Homo sapiens: one gene and its partners. The protein of the gene in region 1 interacts with the protein of each later gene in a biochemical or structural test. Each region holds a gene or a part of one and is shown on either strand. Other genes may lie near its edges.

Region 1 (4,390 bases):
GTAGTCGGAGCTACTCAGGAGACTGAGACAAGAGGATTACTTGAGCCCAAGGGTTTGAGACCAGCCTGGGCAATAGCGAGACCCAGTCTAAAAAAAGAAAAAAAAACGTCAACAACAACAAAAAAACCCACTCGTTCATCAAATCACCTGCAAGGCGCCTGAATGAAAGGTGTCCTTTCCACTGTGGCTCTGCTCAGGGCACCCACAGCTGCAGGTGAGTTAACCTGTCTGGCCCTGCCCCCTCTAGGTCTGTCCTCCCATGACTCACCTGTGTGAGAAAATCATCTCCACGCTGCCTTCCTGGAGGAAGCTCAATGGACCCAACCAGCTGATGTCGCTGCAGCAGTTTGTGTACGACGTGCAGGACCAGCTGAACCCCCTGGCCAGCGAGGAGGACCTCAGGCGCATTGCTCAGCAGCTCCACAGCACAGGCGAGGTGAGCCCCTGGGAGCCCAGGCAGGGGGCCGTGAGAGGTGCCAGGGACTCAGCCTGTCCCAAATTCCAGCTCTTGGAAGTGGTGTGAGCCTGGGGAAGCAGTGTGGAAATGGTCCAGCTAACCTACAACATTTCCACACGTGTGACAAACACAGCCTCAAGTGACGCTCTGAACTGCAGTTCTCGGCTCACCTTAGGAGCTGTCATTTTGTCTTGTCGTGTTTTGCTTTTATTTCCAGAGTCTGTTAGTTTGGGAGTGCAGTGCCCACTGCCCTGGGTGACTGGGTCTCTCTTCACTCCCCCTGGGCACCAGGAACTTAATCTGCTACTCCTGGCAGCCTTCAGGATGGCTTCTTTGTATCAGCGTGGAGTCATCAGCTCCACACAGATCTCCTGGGTGGGAAAACAGTTGAGAAAAGGCAGTGAGGTGTCCTTGTGGAGGCAATGTCTGGAGATACAAAGACAGAGAACTCTGGTGCACAGATACACAGAGTAATCATAATTAAAGATGCACATTAAAAAACTCTAGCAAGCAATGCCCAGCAGAAATGATTGAGAATGGGAGGCTTTGCTCTGGTTCTGTGACATTGAGCACCAGGGCGCGGTTTGGAAACCCTGTTCTAATGGCATCATATGCCTGTCCCAGGAACGGGGGCAGTGCCTTCGTGTTTCTCCACCATGTGAAATTGGGAGCCTACATGAACTAGTGTGGGCCAAGAAGAGCGGTTCTGAATATTGCAACTAAAAGCAGCTCTGAGATTATTAAAAGCCAGATGCTTACCTCCCCAATCTCAGGTGCCAGGTCTGGCCCTATAGCCAGTTTGTATGAGTCATACAAATTTCTTGAAACTAAACCTGAATCCACAAGCCAGTGACCTTGAAAACTGGAGTCGCCGGGCAGTAATTTCATCAGCCTTTAAACTCCCAGTTAAATGGCCAGAGAATCTGCCAACTCATCCAGGAATACTTTAAAGTGATTGAATCCAAGGAAGAACACAGGTGAAGGACCACATCTTAGATGACAAGATACTGCTGGATGTAAAAAATGTGTCAATTCTAATTCTAAACTCCTTTGGCACAGGAGTCCCTTGCTTTCTAGTAGTAGACCAGCAACTTTCTAGATCATATCATATAGTCTCCTTTATTTGTCATTACATCCCTGCTTGCCCTTGAGAGTTTAGTAAGTAAATGAAGATGTAAAGAAGGAGGGTAATTAGGCAGCAGGAACTACATTGTGTGGCCCGACTTTGATTGGCCCCGGGCCTCCTCCAGACCTGCCTTCCGTATCTAATTTGCAGATCTTCAGAACTCCCCAGTGGCCCTTCTGACTCTGTTTTCTGGCCCAGGGTCCCACACTACGTTTAGCTGACTGTCTTAGCTCCCTGTTCTCCTCCACTATGGGACAGTTTCGTCTTTCCTGAGCCTGAGGCGATGAGCAGTGTTTAGGACCAAACTGCAAATGGTATTCCAGCAAATGCTGTATCAGGAACTAGATCAATATTGGCTCTGCCCTCCAGGAATTTTCAACCTAGGTTCAATTCTGAATAGACTCTTAGACAGGGGGCATCTTTCAGGTTTAAGCCAGACTGTGGGCAGGAAATTACTGTGTGGTCACCGGTGGGGTCAGAGCCTCCAAGTGAGGGAGTCCAGGGCGATGGCCACTCTCCAAGAAAGGAAGCAGAACTCTTCCATAAAGGGAAAGTTCCTTCTGTTTTTTGTCACTTTTTTTTCCTTTCTTTTTATTTTTTTAAGAAATAAACACAACCAAAAAGCTAAAGTCCCCTTGGGCCATCATCTCTGGTCTCACTCCTCTCTCCCCTTCTCGGAGGCCAACTATTATCATGGCAGCATATCCTTTCAGGCCTTTTCTATGTGTGTGTGTTAAACATTCACATAATGGTATAATAATAGAATGTTCTGACTCTTTTTTGAAAATGTTCTCAAGCCTTTAGAGAAGTTGCAAGGATAGTACCATGAACTCTCATATAGGCTACATTTATTTATTTTTTTAATTAATTAATTAATTTTTTTTTTTTTTTTTTTGAGATAGAGTCTCACTCTGTTGCCAAGGCTGGAGTGCAGTGGCACAATCTCGGCTCACTGCAGCCTCCGCCTCCTGGGTTCAAGTGATTCTGCCTCAGCCTACAGACACAAGCCATCACACCCAACTAAATTTTGTATTTTTAGAAGAGACAGGGTTTTACCATGTTGGCCAGGCTGGTCTCAAACTCCTGACCTCAAGTGATCCACCCGCCTCGGCCTCCCAAAGTGCTGGGATTACAGGCATGAGTCACGGTGCCCAGCCTACTACATTTAAGCTGATCAGTTGTTGACATTTTGCTACATTTGCTCGATTCCTTTCCTTTCTATTTATTTACTTATTTATTTTGCAGACATGATGACATTTCTTCCCTAAATAATTTAGCCTATATCTCCTAAGGAGAAGGATATTTTCCCACATAACCCAATATAATTGATGATTCCAGAAACATAACATTAATATAGTACTATGATTGAATATATCATCCTCATACAAGGGTTTGCCACTGGTCCCAATAATTTCTTTTAAAGCTATTTTTATTTATGTACTTATTTTGGGATTCAGAATCCAGTCTAAAATCACTCATTGCATTTGGTTGCCATCTCCCATTTTTTTTTCTTCTTTCATTTCGCTGGCCTTTTTGAAGACTTCAGGGGAGTTGTTTTTCAGAATCTCTATTCTGACATTTTCAAGCTGCTTTTCTCCACTCGGTGTTTGGTTTTTGAGACGCATCCACGTGGAATGGCCTTGGGTCACTCCTTAGAGCATCTGCTCAGCCTCTGTTGCCGGCATCAGGCCCTTTAGTGCTCTAAGTGGCTGGTGCACCTGGCCAGGGCTCTGTCCCTAAGCGTGACTTTCTGTTGTCCCCCCGCAGATCAACATCATGCAAAGTGAAACAGTTCAGGACGTGCTGCTCCTGGACCCCCGCTGGCTCTGCACAAACGTCCTGGGGAAGTTGCTGTCCGTGGAGACCCCACGGGCGCTGCACCACTACCGGGGCCGCTACACCGTGGAGGACATCCAGCGCCTGGTGCCCGACAGCGACGTGGAGGAGCTGCTGCAGATCCTCGATGCCATGGACATCTGCGCCCGGGACCTGAGCAGCGGGACCATGGTGGACGTCCCAGCCCTGATCAAGACAGACAACCTGCACCGCTCCTGGGCTGATGAGGAGGACGAGGTGATGGTGTATGGTGGCGTGCGCATCGTGCCCGTGGAACACCTCACCCCCTTCCCATGTGGCATCTTTCACAAGGTCCAGGTGAACCTGTGCCGGTGGATCCACCAGCAAAGCACAGAGGGCGACGCGGACATCCGCCTGTGGGTGAATGGCTGCAAGCTGGCCAACCGTGGGGCCGAGCTGCTGGTGCTGCTGGTCAACCACGGCCAGGGCATTGAGGTCCAGGTCCGCGGCCTGGAGACGGAGAAGATCAAGTGCTGCCTGCTGCTGGACTCGGTGTGCAGCACCATTGAGAACGTCATGGCCACCACGCTGCCAGGGCTCCTGACCGTGAAGCATTACCTGAGCCCCCAGCAGCTGCGGGAGCACCATGAGCCCGTCATGATCTACCAGCCACGGGACTTCTTCCGGGCACAGACTCTGAAGGAAACCTCACTGACCAACACCATGGGGGGGTACAAGGAAAGCTTCAGCAGCATCATGTGCTTCGGGTGTCACGACGTCTACTCACAGGCCAGCCTCGGCATGGACATCCATGCATCAGACCTGAACCTCCTCACTCGGAGGAAACTGAGTCGCCTGCTGGACCCGCCCGACCCCCTGGGGAAGGACTGGTGCCTTCTCGCCATGAACTTAGGCCTCCCTGACCTCGTGGCAAAGTACAACACCAGTAACGGGGCTCCCAAGGATTTCCTCCCCAGCCCCCTCCACGCCCTGCTGCGGGAATGGACCAC
Region 2 (5,256 bases), on another chromosome or scaffold:
TCTGAACAGACTTTTGTTTGAGCTGGTGATAAAATTCTGTATTGGTTTAAGAATCACATGTCATGTGATTTTTATAGAATTCTTCATCTTGAAAACAGAACAAAAATAGCAAGCTGTTGATAAATGAGCATCCTCCACCCGCAACTTGACATGTCGCAAGGCTTACTCTTAAAGATCTCCAGTCCCATTCATATTCCCAGACTTAGACCCTGCCCACATATGAAATGAACTGTACAATTAAATTCTGCCCGTTTAAAGCCTCTTTGATCATATAGAAAATAAAGCAAAACCATTATTTAAAACTTTGCACACTGACTGCTTGTGCATACAAAGTACCTATAGAATGGTAATTGAAATCTCAAGATATGAAGTCAAACTTTCTGATTTCAAATCCCAACTCCAACACTTCCAAGTTGTATGAGTTGGAGAATGTTGTGTAACTAGTCTGTCATTCAGTTTCATCATCTGTAAAACCAAAATGTTACCTTCCTTGTGAGTTTGTTATTATTATTGGTTTTTTTCTTTTGTTTTCTTTTTTTTTTTTTTTGAGACAGAGTGTCACTCTGTCACCCAGGCTGGAGTGTAATGACATGATCTCGGCTCACTGCAACTTCTGCCTCCCAAGTTCAAGTGATTCTCCTGCTTCAGCCTCCCAAGTAGCTGGGATTACAGGTGCCCGCCAGCTAATTTTTGTATTTTTAGTAGAGAGGGGGTTTCACGATGTTGATCAGGCTGGTCTTGAGCTCCTGACCTCAGGTGATCCGCCCACCTCAGGCTCCCAAAATGCTGAGATTACAGGTATAAGCCACCACGCCCGGCCTGTTGTACTTATTAAATAACATGTTTGGAGTTTTTTGTTTTTGTTCTTTTTTTTTTTTTTTAGACAGGGTGTCACTTTGTCCAGCCCAGGCTAGAGTGCAATGATGCAATCATAGCTCACTGCAACCTCAAACTCCTGGGCTCAAGCAATCCTCCCACCTCAGCCTCCCAAGTAGCTGGGAATACATGCATGCATCACCATGCCCAATTTACTTCTTTATTTTTTGTAGAAGCAGGGTTTTGCTATGTTGTCTGGGCTGGTCTTGAACTCCTGGGCTCAAGTGATCCTCCCGTCTTGGCCTCCCAAAGTACCAGGAGCCACTGCACCTGACTAAATAACATGCTTTTTAAAAAAGTGCATGCCATGGTATTTGACATTTGTAAAAACACTAAAATGTTATTGCTATTATCACCCTCAATGTGAATTAGCTCTAATTAGCACATTAGCACTCAAAAAATCCCATTGGGATGGAAATATGTCCTCTCATTAGTTCTAGGTGTTAACCCACAGGAACGACTCTCAACTCTTTTTTGCCTATCCTCCTGAAAAGATGACACCATGTCAAGTTCATCTTAGCTTCCCCTTTGCACGTGTGGCACAGCACACATTAAGGCACAGTGCAGTATAGTAGTTAAGCTCATTCTCTGGACTCAATTAAACTTGGAGTTGAATCCTGTCTTCTTCATTTAATTTTTCTGACTCGTAGTTCCCTGTTTATAAAATGAGTTAAAAGTAAAGGTATCTACCTCATGATGTTATTATAAGGTTTTGATAAAATAATGGATGCAAAGTTTTCAGCATATGCTAATAAAAGCAACAGCAAACATTTATATACTACTTACCATGTGCTAGGCCCTGCTTTAAGCACTTTGCTTGTATTAACATGTTAAATCCCCATAACAATCCTATGATATTGGAGCTATTACTATCTTCACTTTGCATATGTAGAAACCAAGATTGAGTGAAATGAATAACTTGTTCATGGTCATATTAATGGTAAGTAACATGTCAGAATTAAAATCCAGGCAGTTTACCTTCATCCTGGGATCTTAATCACTATGCCCTTTTCCCTCCCAATAGTATGTGCTTGTCAAATATTTGCTATTACTGCAGTAATCAATAAGTATTTATTAAAATATTTAATGAATCAATATCTGCTGAAGTATTTGTTTATTATTTACTATAAATTACTAAGTAGCACATCTTCTTATAGGCCACAAAAATGGACTCCTTTGCTTATAAGTTTTTGAAGAAATTCTCAGATTCTGCCTACCCAGATAATTAATAAGGTGTATAACAGGGAAGGCAATTCAAAATATGTTCCCATCTACTACAACAGCTGCCATTTGTATAATTAGATTTTAAAATAATTTAAAATAAAACAGTGGTATATGATTTGTTGCAAATGACTGACTTCACCTAAAATATGCATCATCACCTATTTCAAAACCTTTACTTAAACAGGAAACAAAACTACAGGAGGTAACTTTGAAAATTGTATGAATAGTCTTAATAATACTCTTAAAAATCATAAATCAAAATATATAACAGCTTGCTTCCATAGTTTGAGGTTTATTATTATATTGCCTAAACTTCAATACAAAATTTTAAATATGAAACATAAAATGCAAAATAATTTTTTCCTTGGATAATTTAATAGTTAGAGACATACCTCACTGCACTTCACTTTATTGTACCTCACAGATATTATTTTTACAAATTGAAGGTTTGTGGCAACCCCAGGTTGTGCAAGTCTATTGGTGCCATTTTTCCAACATGGGCTCATGTCATGTCTCTGTGTCACATTTTAGTAACTCTCACAATATTTCAAACTTTTCCATTATTATTAAATCGGTTATGGTGATCTGTGATTGGTGATCTTTGATGTTACCATCAGAATTGTTTTGGAGAACCATGAACTATGCCCATATAAGATGGTGACCTTAACCAGTAAATCCTGTGTGTGTTCTGACTGCTCCACCAGCCACCCATTTCCCTATCTCTCTCCCTGTCCCTGGCCCTCTCCACTCTCTGAGACACAACAATATTGATAGTATGCCAATTAACCCTATAATAGTCTCTAAGTATTCAAGTGAAACATAGAGACACAAATCTCTCACCTTAAGTCAAAAGCTAGAAATGATTAAACTTAGCAAGGAAGGCACAGTGAAAGCCAAGATAGATCAAAAGCAGGCCTCTTGATTCAAGTTGTGAATGTGAAGGAAAAGTTCTTGAAAGAAACGTAGCATGCTATTCCACTGAACACACAAATGATAAGAAAGTGAAATAGACTAATTGCTGATAGGGAGAAAGTTTGAGTGGTCTGGATAGATCAAACCAGCCACAACATTTCTTTAAGTGAAAATCTAATCCAGAGAAGGTCCTAAGTCTCTTCAATTTATGAAGGCTGAGAGAAATGAGAAAGCTGTGCAACAAAAGTTGGAAGCTAGCAGAGATTTGTTCATGAGGTTTAAGGAAAGAAGTCATCTCAGGCCTGGCATGGTGGCTCATGCCTGTAATCCCAGCACTTTGGGAGGCTGAGGCAGGTGGATCACCTTAGGTCAGGAGTTCCAGACCAGCCTGGACAACATGGTGAAACCCCATCTCTACTAAAAACACAAAAATTAGCAGGGCGTGGTGGCACGCACCTGTAATCCCTGCTATTCAGGAAGCGGAGGCAGGAGAATTTGCTTGAACCCAGGAGGTGAAGGTTGCAGTGAGCCAAGATCGTGCCACTGCACTCCAGCCTGGGTGACAGAGCAAGACTCCATCTCAAAAAAAAAAAAAAAAAAAGTCATCTCTGTAACATAAAAGTGCAAGGTGAAGCAGCAAGGGCTGTTGCCAAAGCTGCAGCAAGCTCTCCAGAAGATCTGGCTAAGATAGTTGATGAAAGTGGCTAAACTAAACAACACATTTTCATATAGATGAAACAGCCTTACACTGGAAGAAGATGTCAGCTAGGACTTTTATAGCTAGAGAGGAGGAGTCGATGCTTGGCTTCAAAACTTCAAAGTACAGGCTGACTCTCTTGTTAGGGGCTAATGTAGCTGGTGACTTTAAGTTACATGCTCACTTACTATTCAAAAAGTTCTAAGGCCCTTATGAATTATTCTAACTGTAACCAGATGCAGTGGCTCATGACTGTAATCCCAACACTTTGTGAGGCCAAGGCAGGAGGATTGCTTGAGCCCAGGAGTTCAAGGTGTCAGTGAGCTATGATGATCCCACTGTACTTCAGCCTAGGCAACCGAGCAAGACCTTTCATCTATGAAAATGCAAATACAAATAAATAAATAATTATTCTAAATCTATAGATTTAGAAAATGTGCTCTATAAATAGAATAACAAAGCCTGGGTAACTGTTTACAATATGGTTTCTTGAATATTTTAAGTCCACTATTAAGAACTACTGCTCAGAAAAAAAATATTTCTTTCTGAATATTACTTCTGGTTGATAACACACCTGTATTAGTCCATTCTTATGCTGCTAATAAAGACATACCCGAGACTAGGAAATTTGTAAAGAAAAAGAGGTTTAATGGACTCACAGTTCCGCATGGCTGGGGAGGCCTCACAATCATGATGGAAGGCACATCTCACATGGTGGCAGGCAAGAGGACATACTCAGGGGAACTCCCCTTTATAAAACCATCATGTCTCGTGAGACTTGCTATCATGAGAACAGCATGGGAAAGACCGGCACCTATGATTCAATTACCTCCCAATGGCTCCCTCCCATGACATGTGGGAATTATGGGAGCTACAATTCAAGATGAGATTTGGGTGGGGACACAGCCAAACAATATCATACGTGGTCACCCAAGAGTTCTGATGGAGATGTACAAAGAGATTAACATTGCTCACACGTCTACTAACACAACATCCACTCTTCAGCTTGTGGATCAGGGAGTAATTTTGACTTTCAAGTCGTATTATTTAAGAAATACATCTCATAAGAAAACAGCTGCCATAGATAGTGATTTTTTTGTTGGAACTAGGCAAAATAAATTGAAAACATTCTGGAAAGGATTCACCATTCTAGATGTCATTAAGAACATTCGTAATTCATGGGAGGTGGTCAAAATATCAACATTAACAGGAGTTTGGAAGATGTGGACTCCAACCCTCCTGAATGAGTTTGAGGTGTCCAAGATGTCAGTGGAGGAAATGAAGTGCAGATGTGGTAGAAACAGCAAAAGAAGCAGAAGTGGAGCCTGAAGATGTAACTAAATTTATGACATTTTAATCTCATGCTAAAACTTGAATGAATGAGGTGTTGCTTCTTATGGATGAGCAAAGAGTGGTTTCTTGAGATGGAATCTACTCCCAGTGAAGATGTTCACAGCACTGTGTAAATGACAACAAAGGATTTAGAATTATATAAATTTAGTCGATAAAGCAGTGGCAGGGCTTGAGAGGATTGATTCCAATATTGA
Region 3 (5,256 bases), on another chromosome or scaffold:
CTCAGGATTCCCCTATTTAAAATAAGAGTAATATCTGCTATGTAAAATTGTTAGGTATGTATAATAGACAACACACATCAAATACAGTGTGTATACTATGTGATACATCACACTAGATTCTTTGTCACAATTGAAAAATACTTCATTATTGCACACAAACATTTTAAGGCCCTTTGATGCTATATTTTAATTCATTTTAAGACTTCCTACACAGAAACATACAGGACGAAAATCTGCTCCAGTGGTAACTGCTGGATCTTATATTGTGGCACACTGCTGGCTCTGCCTAATTAATTACTATCTTGCCCTTCCTCAAGTGCACCCTTCTCATTTTCTAGGATATCTTGGAGCATAACCTGTCAGAAAATAGTCTGTTATAAAGTACAATACCAGTAAGTCCACTAATTTCACACATCTTTTTGTATTTAAGAAGAATCATCTAGAACTCATCAAGTCACACAATCAAGATCTTGTCCCAGATTAAACTGAGCTAGCTGATTGGATCACCCACACCAGTCCTGCCAATTTAGAAAAAACCTAAAGATGAGCTTTATAATTGGAACTCTTTGTCATTTGATTAAATCAACAGAGAGCTTTATCTGAAAGGCTGGGGCAGGCAGATCATTCAAATCACAGCATTTGATTCCTTCTTACACCTCCCTTTTCACATCACATATCCATTTCATAATTACTTTGGGCCTCAACTTCCATATTTGTTAAATGTTTGTAAGAGTCCCCAGGCATAATGACATCTGGGTGCAGCTGGTAGAATTTGTATGAGGATTTAATGAAATAATGCAAGCACAGTACTTAGAATGGTACCTGGTATATATATCTAGGAAAACTCAATAACTCTTAGCCATGGTTAAGGTTTTTTTGTCTCCTTGAGGAAAAAAAGGAGGTTCCCATGGCTATATCTGTGCATCAGTGTATAAGTCATCTGTTTCATTATATTTATATATTTAGTTATTTATAACTAAACTTTCTAGTAGGCTGTGGTGATAGAGAAAGACGATGTACCTTAGGGCCCCCTAAAGGATTTGTTGAGGGACGCAGATTTATGAAAAGAGAAAAGACTGGAAGTTAGAAGACAAAAATTTTTGCTGGACAACTAACTCATCACATGACCTTGAGCAGTCTTCTTGCCTTTCTTTCATCTCTAAAATGAGGTTTAAAAAGTCTACTGCATAGGATTCTCAGAAAAATTAACTAAGACAACTTAAATATCTAAATTCAACTTGCAACACAGACTAACCACTTTCTTGGTGCCAGATATAAATTTATTTTTATAAACATTAATCAAAAGTCAGAACAGAAACAACATTTAGGGTAGATTACTTACAGGCTTTGCTGGCTTCTCACTCTCTCAAATATTAAAAGATCTACTCCCAGACCAAGCCAGGTCATCAGAGAAATATATACCTAAATTAAATCCTATTGTTCCTCCTGCAGAAAACTCATTATCGAATTACACTAGAGTGTGATGCCAACACACCACACTGATAGTTCTCACAAGAATAAGCCCTGTAAACCTTTCATTTGCATTGTAAGGAGGCTACCAAAAACATTTTTTATTACCTCCACAATGAATTCCTTATGAGATCCTCCAGGAGAAAGCCCAGCCTGGACTTAAGACTAAAAATGTTATTACACGTCCTAAGTATTAGAAGCTGGTGGCTTCCAGTATAGTTTTACTGTTTAGAGTCCAAGGAACAAGCAATGAACGCATTCCTTCATTCATTCAAAATATTTATTGAGCATCTACTATGGGCCAGACTCTCTGCTAAGATCCAGAAATGCAATTCTAAAGAAAACAGGAAGTATCTTTGCCTTCACTGACCTAGAGAGTAGTGGGAAGGAACAGATGATTAAATAAATGATTATAATACAAATATGTATTATATAATATAATGATATAGAGCAAGCTGAAAAAGATGCTGGGTAACTAGGTAAGATCTGTTGCCTCCCTGGGTGGGCTGCAAGGCTCAAATAAAGTCAAACTCTGACCAACAGAATAGCAGTGCCCTAGAAGAAAGCTACACGCTTCCGTGGAAATCAGGGAAGAAAGACACAGTGAGAAAAAGACTAGAAATAGGTGGATGGGTAGAGATACTGAGAACCTAATGCTGTCTATACCATGACCAGAAGTGGTCTATTTATGTACTTTGCAACACTGTAACAGTCTGCTTGAGTAGAATTACATTGTGTAGAGTATTCATAACTATATGAAATCATTTCATGAGCCCCTGGAGAAACTGGCCTGACTTTGTGACTCTAAATGACTAAGTAGAAGAAGGTATCAAAGACAGAATGTTGTTTGAGATATAATCTTAGGGATTTTATTTATTAAATTGAGTCATATTAGTATAGCTTTATTAGTTTATTTCCATCACCACTACCATATGAAAGGAGAGAGAAATATCCAGGCTATATTGAGATCATAAACCCCGCCTTCAAATGAATTTTTGTTCTCAAAGATGCTGGAAATTCAGAGCAAAGAATTAAATATCTAAGAGGGATTGGGATTACAAAAGTTTAATTGAGCAGTTTTAGTCATAGTCCTATCACGTAACGAAGTAACACATGAGACTTGGAGATTATGTGAGGAATTCAATGAACTTGGTACCTCATGTGCTTGGTACAATAATAATAATAATAACCAATATTTATTGAAGGTTTATCTTGTGGCAAATACTGGTTCTAAGTGTTTTCCCTGTATTAACTAACAACAATCTCATATGGTAGGCAGTATTGTCATTTTACAGCTGAGGAAACTGAGGCATAAAGAGACATGGCAACATTTCCAAGTCGTATGATTGGTAAGTTCAAACCTAGTCAGTCCAACTCCACGGCCCAGGCTCTTAGCCACTACTGCATTCTCCCAATACAGTAGTCTAAGAGCGTCTAAGGGAAGCTCAAAGGACATATCAGAGAACTCTGCCTCAGGATATACACAGGAGTTCATCTTCTCCTCTCTGGGGCCTTTATGACATGAAAATGAATGGGATTTCAGCATAACAAGGGGGATCCTGTGCTCTACTCTGCTCAGAACAGTCAGTGTGGGCCTGTTGTCCCAATGCCCACCAGCATCTCCTTTCACGCCACACGGTTCCAGTTTGGATAATAAGTTACATATTCACCTAAGTCCAGTGGCTAAGAAGTTATGTTCTGAAGTTTGCTGGGTCTATAGTCAAAACCCAGCTTAGCCACCTACTAGCTGTGGGAGTTGAGGCCAATTACTTTGTCTCAATAAGCCTCAATTTTCTCATCTACTAAATGGAAATAATAATAGTCCCCACTTCATAGCATTGTTATGAAAATTCTAGGAGCCAACACATATGAATCAATTTGTATAATCCTTAGCAAATTGTGGGCACCCAATAAAAATTCATTTTTATCAACATTAGATTAAATGTTTGAGAAGGTTTCTTACATTGGCATAACTGTGGTGGACTGCTTTATAAACTTGAGACATCAAAGCATACCTGTGAATCTGGAGCACTTAGACAAGAACCACCATCAGTAGGGAATGTCCAATTTTTCTAAGTAAATCACTGGTACTTCCAGGGGTATCCATTTTAAAATGAAATTATAATGCTAAAGCCATTGGAAATGCAGTTGGGTCTCAGCCACTCCCAGGGATTTTAATCCATTCCATTCTAGGCTCCCTGGGAACCTCACTGAAATGCTAAATTTCATGGTAACATGGAGAAAGTTAAGTATCCTTTCAGCTTATAATCTCTTTGGGGTACATTTTAGCCTCTTGGGCCAATCTGGATTCAAAGTTGTAACTTCTGGCATCATTCTGCATTCAAACATAAGCCACTGACTCACTGTACTTTGTATTCGAGCCCTGGAATAGCTTTAATATTCAGAGAATATCCTTTATATGGCATGGGCATGACCGCAGACCAGTCCTTTTGCTGGCAACTGCAGTAACTGGCTACATGTGTTAGAACCTGCCAAAATGTTTGTCACCCAAGACGGGAGAATCTTGAAAGACAGACTCAATAGATCATAGTCAGGGGCTTGATAAAACCACACAGCTAGTTAGTATACATACTGAACAAATCACCAATTTTTGCTCATTCTTTTTATTTGTTAAATAAAGAGGTTAAATCCATTGAAAAAAAAAGGGGGGGTTAAACCTAACATGGTCTGGCTCTGCGCGGCTTAAGAAGATTCCATCTGCTCAAGAACGATAACCCGCTTCCCCCTTACTTTTAAAAACTTCTACTTCCTCCCATAGTAACCTATTTAATAGTATGCCTGACTGTCAGCAAGTTCTTTGCCTCCAGCCTAGCTTCCTCTCCTCATCATGCAAATTGCCGTTGGCTTTAATTAGATTTAATAAGCCACTGGGAAGTGAAGCGAGGGAAATGGAGAGCAAAGATTATACAGTATGGGCTTACTCTTGCATGTCCAATACAGCATTTCCCTGGAACTCTCATATCCTCCCAGGCTGGGAAAATAAAGAATGCCAAGCGCATGGAAAGACACGCTGCTGCTGCTGCTGTCCAAATGTGAACCGTGGGTGGAGAAAAATCATTTAGAAAAAGAGAGTGAGGGAAAAAAGAAAATGAACCAGAATCCCCAACAGCTGCAAATAACGAAGCATGTGAATCTGTTACCTTGGATGAACTCTGCTTTCCTGCTCACAGACGGCAGGGTCCTGTTGAGCCCCAGGATCCTGTCTAGGTGGAAGGCAAACACCTCACTCATGTCCAAGGGCTGCTTGAGAAGCCCACAGGGGCTAGGGCCACAGCGGAGCACAGCGCCAGGTGCGCCCCCCTCCAGCACCAGCAAACGGGCTCCGCTCCTAGAGGACACAGGCCGGAGCCCTGCCACTGCGCTGTCCGCCAAGAGTCGCATTCTTCGGATGTCATCTTTGCTCAGCCAGGAGGGGGCGCTCTCGCTGTAGATCCTAATGTTGCTCTCCCTGGAGCTGGGCTGCAGGAAGTCTGGGCCCCCGGCTCGCACTCCCGGACCCCGCACCAACCTCCAGGGTCGCTCTCCAATCTTAACCAGGTTTGCTCCCTGAGCGTACCCAGGTGCTACAGCATCAGCTTCCCTTGCCGCTTCCTGCGGCTGAAGGGATGGTCCGACCAAAGCCTCCTGCCCTGGGGCAGCCGATGCCACTGCATGCTTTTTCCTGCGCTTGGGCTTCACGGTGCCACGGATATTGGCCGGCTTGCTGCGCTTGGAGCGTAGGGTAATGTACACCACATTGGGCTGCAGAGTGGACCCATTGCCCTG
Region 4 (5,831 bases), on another chromosome or scaffold:
ATTTTAAGTTAAAGAATTTCTTCTGGCACTGATTCTTTGGTATTTTTAAGCCTTGCTCAGTGAAAGGATGCTGCTGCTGATTGCTTCATATGTTCATATTTAAGATATACAATTATTATCCAAGTGATATTTGTCAATTGAAATGGGATATGAGCATGTTACAACATGCTCATTTCAACAGAAACTTTTAAAAAACCCAGTCTGCTCAACAAATCACGTAGGACAAAAGAGAAGGTCATTTTTTAAAAGGTAGATATTTTTTTCTATCTGTTAAATGTCTTTTACCCCTTAAATGTCTATGAAAATTTTCACTGATATTTGAAACAGAACATAATTACCTAAGAATATTCTTAATCCGTATATATTTCTTACATTTTAACGAAATTATTGAATTGAGACTTCTTGATTTGTGGCTCCCTTAAAATCACCTCTGCATTTGATGTATTATACGGACAAGAAAATGATGCAATTATAGAAAGATGTAGAGAGTGATGGAGAATAGAAGATAAGATTAATATTAATTGAATGGATTCATATGATTGTGGTTCAGAAGGATAAATGAGGACTTCTTCCTTTTGAGAAATTACACATTTCCCCCTCTAGGGAAATACAGAAAATACCTCTATAGGCAATTTACTTTTCCCCGCATTCATTTGACTTTTCATGTCCAGAAATGCAGTTTCTCATTGTCAGTTGAGCTTTTGGAGGAGTATATTGTTTTTCTAGGAAAGAGGTAACTTATGAGTCTTAATGAACACGTACAATTTGCTAAGAATCTTCTTTGTCACTTGAAAGTCATATGTACACCCACACCTATGCATGAGCCACATTTTCACTTAAATTTCAAACTCCAAAATAAATATTTCTATGAAGAGTTTTAATACACAATGGCAAAAGATAAACTCTTCTGGTTTAGGCAGTTTTTGTTTTAGCAGACTATCTAAACACAGCTGCTACAACTTCCAATAAACAAAGAGTAACACTAAACCACCTGTATTCGGATACTCGGATTCCTTCTTGGAAAAAGAGCATCTTTACCCTAGCTATCAGAAAATTCCATACCAAATAGTAAGATTTTTTTTTTTTGAGATAGAGTCATGCTCTGTCGCCCAGGCTGGAGTGCATGGACGCGATCTCACTGCAACCTCTGCCTCCCGGGTTCAAGGATTCCCCTGCCTCAGCCTCCCGAGTAGCCGGGATTACAGGCGCCCGCAACCATGCCTGGCTAATTTTTGTATTTTTAGTAGAGACAGGGTTTCGCCATGTTGGCCAGGCTGGTTTTGAATTCCTGACCTCCGGTGATCCGCCCGCCTTAGCCTCCCAAAGTGCTGGGATTACAGGCGTGGGCCACCGCGCCAGGCCTGTTGTTGTTTTTTAAATAGAGACAAGGTCTCACTATGTTGTCCAGGCTGGTCTCAAACTCCTGAGCTCAAGCGATCCTCCTGCCTCGACCTCCCAAAGTGCGGGGATTACAGGCGTGAGTTACCGCGCCCGGCTGTAAGATAGTTTTTTCATATCCTATTAAATATATATAGCATTGCAACATTTAACTTAGCCTAACTCCTACAGCTAAACATAAAACTTGCTCCCGAGTAGCAAACAATTAAAATGGTATCAAATTATGTATTAATCGAAATTCTATTAACTGAAATATGAAACACCTAAAGCCCTCAAAATGGGCAAACGTTGCGTGGTGCAGTCCCAGACCCAAGCTTCTGGGAGTGAAAGGTGCACCCGCGACCTTGCCTTGCTGGCTGGCTCTGGGACTCTGCGATAAGCCGCCCTCCGGTTGTCTGCGATAGCTCCTGAAGCAGGAGAGTGTCTTTCCCACCCTCCGCCTAACAGGCGGTATCTGACCCTTCCAGGCAGCAGCTCCCCAGCCTCCGGCTGCGCTGGGGCCCGGAAGGACGAAGCTTCCCGGCAGAGAACCTGGGCAGAGGCGTCCGTTGGGTAGGCGGCCGCGACCCGCTCGCTGCTTCTCCCCTAGTCTTCGGGTCCCTTGAACGCAGGTCGCTTGTTTGCCTTACGCGTAGTCAGCGGCCAGTGGCTATTTATGGCAGTAAGGAATATTATCCACATTTCACATGGAGCTTAGAGGACAGGGCGAGGGTCCACACTCTCCTTACTGCGCTCTGCCGCGGTCCTGCCCCGCTGTGCCCTCGCGGCCCCCTTAGAGCCACTGCCGGCGCACGCGGTCTGCAGACAGCAGAGCGCGGGCGCGCACAACTAAGCATGCGCCGCGGCCGAGCCGTCCGCTTTAAGGCCCTCCCCTCCCGCACCCGGCCCCAGGAACCCGGGGCGCCCCGGATCGGGAACGTGCGTGATGACGCACGTGCGCGCGAAGACGTGGGGACGCAGGCGGGTCGTAGAGAGCGTGAGTTTCCGCGTCTGTTTGGTCCGGCTGCTGTCGTTGGTTGTGAGCGGCATCTCTCGCCGTTTCCCCGGGCTGCGGGAGCTGGCGGCCGGGCTGGGGCTGCTGGGCGGAGGTCGGCGCCTCCCGGGGGGCTAGGGCGAGGGAGGCATGGCGGGGCTGGAGGCACAGCCTCCCCGTCCGGGGCAAGTCCGAGAGCGGGGAGGGCGTTTCCTGGGGTAACTCCACCTGGGGTCTTGTCGAAGTTGCCGCATCTCCGCCGGACCGCACGGGAACGACGTGCCCACACTCGGAGGAAGGGGTTGGCGCTGAGCGAGTTTAAAGGGTTCCTTTTGAAAGCAGGAAGTTTGAAGTGACGTTGCATCAGCAACAGAGCATGCAGTTTCAGGTGCTCTCGGGACAGCTTTCAGTTTCTCAGAACAAGTCTAAGCCTCACCGCAGTAATAACTTTTATTAGAGGACAAAAAATCCGCCAAAGTAAACCCTTTCTGTCCAACCCCTAAAAACCTTTGGATAAACGTTTACAAGAAACGGATCACAGCCTTATTTGTTTTTCTAAACTGAGCATAAACTCTTTTGAAGACTCAGCGTTACTGTCAAAATGAATGAGTGCCTGCCTAGTTATGATTCAATTATCGAGGTGTTTGGGTCTCTGCAGTACACTCAGTGACTCCCAGGCTTTTCTTTTTTCTCTTTGAAATTGCTTATTAGAAGGCTTTATCTAATTTCTCACAGTTGTGTGTCTTTTTGAGGTAGTTCTAATAAACTTTAAAGGCTTCTGGTTTGCTGCAGGCCTGCCGTCGCTGTGGAAAGCAAGTATTCTTTCAAAGAAGAATAGAAGTGCATTGGTTTCTAAATAATCCCAGGACGCTAGGATCAGCATCACTTGGGAACTTCTTGGAAATGCACATTTTGGGGTCTTATCCCAAACTTACTGAATCAGAAATATATTTTAACAAGCCTTCCAGTTGATACCAATGCACCTGGACGCTAAAGTTTGAGAATTAATGGCGTAGTGATAACACCCATTGTGGAATCACATATAATGGAATTTGAATTGAAGTAATTCCTAGATGGAAAAACTTGGACATGTTACCTCACAGGGCTGGAATATGAAGATGCAAGAAAAATGTTTAACACAAAACACATAGAAAACCCTCAAAGATGTTATTAAGTAACTTATTAGAACTGCATAAAATAAGTACATAGTTTGTGCTGGAAGGATTCTTCAGCGGGGTAGATATGAGCTGTAGCGCATGGATATTGGGACTGCTGCTTAGAGGGTATTTTGTTTACCTCGGGATTCTCAATTCTGTGTAGTCAAGGTTGTTGGATGCAGGATATTCAGTTAAAAGTTAAAGCAGTGCATACTAATGCTATTGTGGTTGTAGGATTTTTAAGAATAGCATTAGTATTTATGTTGAAGAGTAGTTTTTAATTCTTTGGCCTTCTGATCTCTTCAGCTTTGTTTGGAGACAGTCTCTTTCTGCCACCCAGGCTGGAGTGCAATGGTGCAATCTTGGATCACTGTAACCGCTGCCTCCAGGGTTCAAACGATTCTCCTGCCTCAGCTTCCCAGGTAGCTGGGATTACAGGCGTCTGCCACCACGCCCAGCTAATTTTTGTATTTTTAGTAGAGACGGTTTCACCACGTTTGCCAAGCTGGTCCCGAACTCCTGACCTCAGGTAATCCACCTGCCTCGTCTTCAGTTTAGTTATACCTTCTTTGACCCAGAATTTGGTAAAGACCAGAGGTAAGCACTAGTTTTAGAGTTGAGAATTATTGTAACATAGTGACTTGCAAGCGAAAGCCAAGGCTGAATATGTTTCTGTCCTTATCTTTGTTTCCCATATGTCGTACAACTCCACGGTAGCAAAGATCTCATGTCTACTCTAGATACCTCCATTTTCAGGAAGGATCACAGGAGTGCCCTCAACCTGCTGTGTTTTTTAGATGCAGTATTTTCTTACAACTTTATCTCTTTCAGGGGTCCATTGTAGGGGGAGAAAGAAATATTCAGGATTTAAAGCAGCTGCTCTAAAGGCTACATTCACTGCAATGTTGAGAAGGTCAGTGCCAAACCGTGGCCTACACATGTCGTTTTGATGAGAGCACGCTGCTCCCAAGGCTATACCATGGCTCCTGGATATTGAGAGAGTTTTCAGATAAACATAAGTCACTTTGAATGGATTATTCTGGAAATAATTTCGTTAGCTCTGCCACCAAATTGGCACTGCCCCATCATGAAATGTTTATTTTTCGAAGGCATTAAATATTTTTTTTTGTTCTCCTCATCGGAGAGGCAGATCGCTATCTGTGGTTTTAGGTCAGACAAGCCCTGCTCTGAATCTTGCCTCTGCTACTTAGTGATTGTGTACATTAGACAAATTAACATCCTCCCCACTTGAATTTCTGTAAAGTAGGAGTCATAGGATGTGCTACTTCAGGCCATTGAATTAAATGAAATAACGCATAAAACACGTCCACCTTGTTTTAGGCACAGAGGCTCAGTAAATGTTGTGTGTCGGACAAAGGGAAAAAAGGTATTTGTTGTCTCAAACCTAACTTTATGCCATTCATTTTATAATATTTTTATAAATGAGGTAATTTTATTACCTAACTGCACTGCTTTTCTTTTTAACCATAAAATGCTGAAATGGAGTCAAAGCTTTCATATTATTGTGAATGAGAAAAAACAAACACTTGAAAAAAGTTGAAACTTTAACGTGAAAAAACACCATCTTCAGTTTTATCACTGTAACAGAGCAACTTGTAGAAATTGTTTTGGATGTTTACAGCAAGGTAAACATCCAAAGGTCAGGGGATGAGTAATAAAGTATCTTCTGTTAGTTAATGGGGACAGTCAGCTAGAGAAGGGGACACTGTTACAGGAAATGAGACCTCGTTGAAGGTATGCATCAAAGGATGAGAAAATGCTGTTAGCCCTGAAATTGCTAATATTTTTTTAAAACACGAATTCTTAATAGCAAAGTGAAAAGTTTTACATTACATTTTTTAATAAGGGATAACAAAATCTCTTACATGTATTTCTGTGTGTTTATATTGTATATGAATGTATGAGTGCAGAAAATACTTGACTCACACTAGGTCATAATTTTATTTGTCAGTATATTGGAATATGGGGGTGGGGACCAAGTATAAAAGGAAATTTTCTATATATGTAAAATTAGATACGTACATGTATATGTAAATGTTCTTTAAAAAAACTATTAAAAACGGAAGCGATTCTTTAAAAGGTAGATTTCCTTTTATGTTGCAGTCATAGCCACGTAAGCAATGGACCTCATATTTTTTTTCAACAGGGAGCCTCTTAAACAGAATCTTACCTGTAAAACTCAGGAGCCGAGAAGCTTTAAGAACAGTGAGGTTGAAGGGCACAGGCTCTTGGTCCTTGGCAGCGATATTAGGAGGCGTGCCTAGGGAACCTCGGATTCCGGG

What was found.
Region 2: the proteins of DAPK1 (region 1) and TPD52L1 form a complex in vitro, tested with the Homo sapiens proteins (one large-scale study listed by BioGRID and IntAct).
Region 3: the proteins of DAPK1 (region 1) and GASK1B form a complex in vitro, tested with the Homo sapiens proteins (one large-scale study listed by BioGRID and IntAct).
Region 4: the proteins of DAPK1 (region 1) and RHBDD1 form a complex in vitro, tested with the Homo sapiens proteins (one large-scale study listed by BioGRID and IntAct).

Annotation. Positions count from the first base shown.
Region 1 is NC_000009.12:87,702,782-87,707,171, forward strand, and holds part of DAPK1 (death-associated protein kinase 1), read left to right. Parts: intron 1-247; coding exon 248-436; intron 437-3,350; coding exon 3,351-4,390. UniProt on the Homo sapiens protein: Calcium/calmodulin-dependent serine/threonine kinase involved in multiple cellular signaling pathways that trigger cell survival, apoptosis, and autophagy.
Region 2 is NC_000006.12:125,159,208-125,164,463, reverse strand, and holds part of TPD52L1 (tumor protein D53), read right to left. Parts: intron 1-5,256.
Region 3 is NC_000004.12:158,165,835-158,171,090, forward strand, and holds part of GASK1B (Golgi-associated kinase 1B), read right to left. Parts: coding exon 4,632-5,256; intron 4,514-4,631; coding exon of another isoform or gene 4,413-4,513; intron 1-4,412.
Region 4 is NC_000002.12:226,833,714-226,839,544, forward strand, and holds the start of RHBDD1 (rhomboid-related protein 4), read left to right. Parts: upstream 1-2,340; 5' UTR 2,341-2,374; exon of another isoform or gene 2,375-4,359; 5' UTR 4,360-4,441; intron 4,442-5,695; 5' UTR 5,696-5,831. UniProt on the Homo sapiens protein: Intramembrane-cleaving serine protease that cleaves single transmembrane or multi-pass membrane proteins in the hydrophobic plane of the membrane, luminal loops and juxtamembrane regions.